Regions from separate parts of the Homo sapiens genome. Here region 1 is linked to region 2. Evidence: fine-mapped expression QTL. A gene starts in region 2. The other region holds a variant in brackets. All regions are shown on one strand. Distances are from middle to middle. Region 1 overlaps SLC25A43 (solute carrier family 25 member 43). Region 2 holds the start of SLC25A5 (solute carrier family 25 member 5).

Region 1 (2,910 bases), 50 kb after region 2:
AAAAAAAAAAGGATCTAACGCAGACAGATCTGAGAAAGATTCATCTGACAGAATCCCATATGGGCTGGGCTGGAGAGGATTGAAATGAGCACTGACTCTGGAGACAAGCTCCCTGGGCTTATATCCCAGCTCAATTACTGGATGGGTGAACTTGCAGGCTACAAAACCTTTCGGTGCCTCAGTTTTCTCATCTGTAAAATGGACTTAATAATAACAGTGCCCACCTTGTAGGGCTGTTGTAAGGATTAAATGAGATAATGAACATAAAGCACTTAGCACAGTGCCTAGTACATATTAATATTCAATGCTTAAGATCATTTTTAGAATTAATCCTGGAGACCAATGAGGAGATTACTGTAATAGCCTAGGTATGAGCTGATAAGGTCCAAGATTAGGGCAAGAGGCAGTGACAAAAAGAAAGACCAGCATGGGAATGTTAGGAATGAAGAAGCAACAGGGCTCAAGGTTAACCGGGTGAGGGGAAGGGGAAGAGTCAAACACAAGTTGTGGATTTCCAGCCTGAGTCACTGGGGCAATGATGGAATTGAAATGGAAAACTCTGGAATAACAGTGTTAGGAAAAGAAGAGGTCAGCTTGATGCACATTAAGTTAGAGGTGACAGTGGGGATATGATAGCCAAATAGTGATGTCGAGCAGGCTGTGGGAAATGTGGGACCATGGCTCAGAAGGGAGGTCAGGATTGAAGATGTAGATATGAACATGAAAAACTACAAGAGGGGATGAGCACCCTGAGAGGGAATGAATGAAGTGACTGTGTCCAATTCAACAAAGGTAACCCGAGGTGTCGAGCATCTCTATTTGAGTAGGCTGGGGCCTCTGTTTATTCACTGACCATGTATATTCTGCTCAGTCAGCTGTACCACTCGGATACCACCTTTGTCCTTCATCTTATGTGCTTTCAGTTCAAATGCTGACCTGGCCCAATCCTGCTTACCTTGTGAGCTGTGATGGGGTCAAAGTCCACTGGGGTATAAAGCAACAGGCTCACACTTGGTTTTATATTTGATGAAATGGAGACACCTAATATGGGCAATAGGGGAGGGTGTCAGGCAGAGTTGTGGGGGGACCGAGCATGTGTCTGGTACCTCCCTCCTGATCCTTTCAGAAGGCCTGCCAGATTCCAAGGCTCCTACATTCTCAGCTGCTCCCTGGATTTTCAGGGCAGTATTCCCCAGCCTATCTCCCTCTCTTCTTCACATGCACCTGTGCAGAGAGCCATTTTCTCAGGACTCCCTGGTTCTTATTCGGGGTGCACAGATTAATCAGATGAATTCATCTCTGTCAATATTTTACCCTTCCTACTTGTTCTCTCAATACACTAAGTTCTGCCATCTCTTCTGGCCCAGGCCCTGGGCTAGGTGTGGGAGATAGACAAAAAGGCCAGGCTATACCTGGAAGGGCTTGAGCTAAGATGCACTGAAGCGTGGAGAAGGGGATTTCAGGCAGGGTGGTTGGGGTCCGTGAAAGCACACCAAGTTGGGGGCACCTCATTCCATGTGTGCACAGGCCTGACCCACCCCCCTTCCCACCAGAAGCCATTCTATCAAGACATGCACATGCATAATTTATTTACCTCTCCATTCTCTAGCATGCCAGCCAGGAGCCAAGGCAAGAAAAGG[A/G]AAAAGGGATAAAATGAGTGTAAGCATGGTGAAGGAAGGGCTCAGCTGGTTAAACAAGACTTCTGATTACTGTCATTATGTTCAAAAGAGTTCCAACCTGATGTGCCATTAAATGGGCTGTGTGTGTCTAGAGAAAAGCATATTAAGAGAAAGAAACATCCAGACAAAGGGGCCAGTCAGTGCAGGGATCGAGAAAAATTCCCTGTGTAGCTCGTTATCCAACAGACACCTGCCATTGATTTGCTTCATGACAGGCAGTGCAATGGGGAAAGCCAATGGAATGCAAATGTTGCCATTAAGTGTGCTCAGGTCAGAGCAGCCCAGTGGCCCTGCAAAGGTCCCTCGTTACTTATTCTGCTGGCAAACCCTGCCTGCTCCAGCGAGGACAGACTGTTATTAAAGCCCTCTCTTCTTGGTGAATTTGGAGTGTGTGCTTTGTAGGACAAGTAACAGTAACAACAAAACCAACAAGTTTAGCATTAGCCTGTGGTTTCTAGGCCTCTTATTCTCCAAACCAAAGATGGATTTCAAGCAGGGATTATGAAGTTGTTAACTGGACAGAGATCACCGAACTTCAGGCTCCAATCAGGTGATGCTCAGCTACTCTCCATTTACTGCAGTGACATCTAATGGCCAGAGAAGCCCAATGCCATGTTTGCATTTAAAAGCAGCCTGCAGTTCTGTCTTGGGGGTGAATTTTTTTTTTAACATAGGGTGGACAAAGTATTAGTATGTTTATTAACCCCTGCAAAATAACACTTTCACTGAAACCCTAAAAGTTCACTTCCTATATCTTTGGATGACATTTATATTGTTATTCATAATTACATGTTGATCCTATTTTGTGAAAACAGTGCAATTACCTCTTTGGATTTTTTTTTTTTTTTTACAACCATCATGACTTTGCATCTATTTGAAACTTCTTCTTATGCTCTATATATGCATTATTTGGAAGGCTCCCATACGAGGAAAAAGATGATCAGGATTACCCCCAAATACCCACTTCTAGTGTATCTTACCCCAGTTTATAGTGGGTTGTTGTGGTAGGGGTATAGAATGCAGATGGTGTAGAATGCGGTGTTGGCTGGATTCTCCCAGATGAGGTCACTGTTCTAGCTCTCAGGAAGAGAAAGCAAAACTAAGGTTTATGGGGAAGACTGGGACCCTTACCCGTCCCATTTAGATGTCATTGAACTTCATCTGAAACCTTTTTCTTTTCTTTTCTCTTTTTTTTGAGACAGAGTCTCGCTCTGTCACCCAGGCTGGAGTG
Region 2 (2,907 bases):
GATTCCCTGCAAAGTAGAGCCAAAACTGGGTTCTCTTGTCCACACCACCCAGGAAGATCTGCTTGTATTTATCTTTGAAGGCGAAGTTAAGAGCCTGGGTGGGGAAGTATCTGATGACATTGGCCAGGTTACCGCGCCAGAAGGACAGAACTCCCTGCTCCTTGGGAATACGGACCACGCAGTCTATAATGCCTTTGTATTGCTTATCTGCAGTGATCTGCTTGCTGGCATGCTGCACCTAACAGACAGGAAGGAAGCCAACAGGGACAGTTATAACCATGGGGAAGGGAAAGAGAAGAGCTTATGCCATCTCGATCAATGCCCTTTAAGGTAGGCTCCCCTCTCTCAAATCTAGTCTTCGTATATCATACTGGCTGGACCCTCCCAACCCTCTGAGGCTGTCACAGGGGAAGAGGTGATCTGCACCAGTAGCATTAAGCCTCCACCCCTCTGAGTGGAGAGGGGGCATCCTCCAGCGGACCCGTGACCTTCAGACCTAGGAGAAAGGTCATTACCTCAAACCCAGGTTCAGAGGCATTAGGGCGAGTCCCACATAGGGCGCGGTCACCTTGGGGACCGCAGCCTACGCCTCAAGTCTCCTGAGCTGCTTCCGTCTCGCTCCGCCCCCACTCCGCTCCCAGAGGTGACCCGAGCGCCGCCGCCGCCAGCCCTACACGCTAGCCCAGGAGCGCCCTCTAGAGCCGGCACTGGAGAGCGCGCGGCGCAGGGAGGCAGGCGGAGACGCGGCGGCAGCGGCCGCGGCTGCGCGGGGGCGGACGTAAAAGGCACACGCGCTTCCCGGCGCCGGCTTCCGGCCCGGCGAGGTTTGAGCGCGTCCGCGGGCTGGGAGGCCGCTGGACCCGGGCGCATGGCCTCCCCCGGGCAGTTATCTCCTTGCCGCGACCTTGAGGTCTTCGGTAAGAACTGGCGTTCCTCTTTCTAACGCCGGCTTTCGGCCTTCGCCCTTGACGCCCAGGCCCGGGGAGGCCGTCACTCAGAAACTGCTCCATCCGAGTCCGCCGCCTCGGAGATGCCGAGAGCCTGGTCCTGCCCTCTGCCCCCGGCCCCTTCCTAGACTCACTACTTCAGGTCACTAAAGGCGCCTCCCACCAGTTTGACTTCTGTTCTGCCTCTGCGCCCCGCTCTGGCCTCTCCTAAGCCGCTTCCCTGGCCATGTCTTTAGAGTTCGCTCCCCGCCACCCCTCGGGCGCCCGCCTTCTGTGCGACCCTTCCCCCCACTTCCTGGTTGGGCTCCTGGATCCCAGGACGTACCTGCAGCAGCAGCTTGACCCGCTCGATGGGCGCTACCGCCGTCTTGGAGATGGCTGCGGCCACTCCACCTGCCAGGAAGTCCTTGGCGAAGGACACAGCGGCATCTGTCATGTTGAAAGAGGAGGCAGACTGCTGCAGGACGGGACTGGGCCGGGAACCGGCTTTGACTCCGGCGCTGCGGGGCGGAGCGAAGCAAATGGCCGATTTATATAGGGGGAGCCGGAGCTGGAGCGGCAGGCGTCGGAGGCGGGGCCGGGGCGGGGTCTGGGCCCCGGCGCGCTGGGCGGCAGAGCCGCTGAGTGGCCCAGCTCGCAGGAGGAGGAGTCGTGGAGGGCGGGCCGGGACTGCTCTCCGCGCCGCCCGTGCTCGCCCTCGGCACCTGACCCGGCGAGAGGAAGGGGCGGGTCCAGAGAACACCCGGGACTTGAACGCTGGACCCTGAGAGAGGCCTCGGAGAGGGGAGGAAGGGTGAGGTCACGATGTGCCTGGACAAAAACCCTTGGAGCAGGACCAGGACTAGGGTGAGACGCATTTGCTACAGGGATGCCAAAAGAACCCTTCAGTCATCGAGATAAACAGTAGTCAATGCGATACTTTAAAAAAGTCGTATGGGCAAACTACATCCTACTGGCCGGCCCCCTTGTTTTGTAAATAAAGTTTAATTGGAGTGTCAAGGCTGGGTTTAGGGTGAGGCAAGCGAGACAAGGTCATGCAAGTGCAGGTTGGGATCCTGTCTGTATTTCAAATGTTGATCATTTGTTCATCATGGATTTTTGCATTGCTTCTGATTTTTTTAAAATAGTACATGAAAAATCATTTGTCTTAATTACTGAGTTGTTTTTCACCAAGGTGAATGCCTCACTCTTCCCACTCTAGACCGTGTGCTGTCCTGGAGCCAGTGAAACCAGACGAAATTAAGGGAACAGCAGACGAAGGAACTGCCACCGTGCCCCAGACCCTGGTTTGCAAATACAGTTCGACAAAGATCTTGCCAGGAATTGGCCTGGGAGAGTCCAAAGGACTGGGCTGGGGGTGGGGAAATGATTTTAGCCAGAAGACAAATATAGAGGTTGTACCCAGAAGGTTAAGAGGCTTAGGAAGGTTAAGAACTACGTTAACATTTGGCTCCCAGGACCCCAGGTAAAGTGCCCTTGGATTGAATAGATTTCTGAACTCCAGAAACATTTAGAGGAATCAATAGAATTAGATTGGCAGCCATTGTGCCAATGGACAAGTGCTTACTGAGCCCCTTAATCCCTTCACTGGGTAAGCATTTGCCACACATGTCCTCAAAAACCTACTTGTTAGCTTAAGTGGACTCCCTCAAGTTCAGAACAGGAGCAAATAGTGTAATCACAAGTTCCGTGTCTGAATAATCATAACAATGTTTATAAAAATAAGGACGACTGTTGAAAACTGCAACTGCAGCTGAACCTTATGTGCCCAGACTTCAGAATTCCCATAGGCAAAATGCCAGCAGGCCTTTGCACACTGAACACATAGTGTTCATATCCTTCACTTTCCTTTCCTGCCCTCTCCTATCTTCTCCAGATCTGCCTGTGAAAGGACCCAATTCTAGGACCCCCCAGGATGGTTAGGCCCTTCCTCTGAAAGTACACTTTGCAATTTGTTAGT

What was found. PIP is the estimated chance that this variant, and not a neighbour inherited with it, causes the effect. A credible set is the group of variants that fine-mapping cannot tell apart.
Region 1: its variant is the best candidate, but not a certain one, in a credible set for the expression of SLC25A5 in nasal epithelium (TOPMed, PIP 0.53).

What each region holds. Positions count from the first base shown.
Region 1 is chrX:119,417,390-119,420,299 of GRCh38, reverse strand. All of the region lies in intron 3 of SLC25A43 (solute carrier family 25 member 43), which reads right to left. Among named protein-coding and RNA genes, the nearest start is that of SLC25A43, 20 kb to the right of the region's middle. The variant A/G (reference allele first, on the strand shown) is at 1,641.
Region 2 is chrX:119,466,992-119,469,898 of GRCh38, reverse strand. It overlaps SLC25A5 (solute carrier family 25 member 5), which reads right to left and starts at 1,455. Exons shown (of 4, transcript NM_001152.5): 1 at 1,273-1,455; 2 at 1-238. The coding sequence starts at 1,383. SLC25A5-AS1 (SLC25A5 antisense RNA 1) reads left to right here and starts at 779. Exons shown (of 1, transcript NR_028443.1): 1 at 779-2,907. RefSeq lists silencers at 666-905, 1,396-1,775.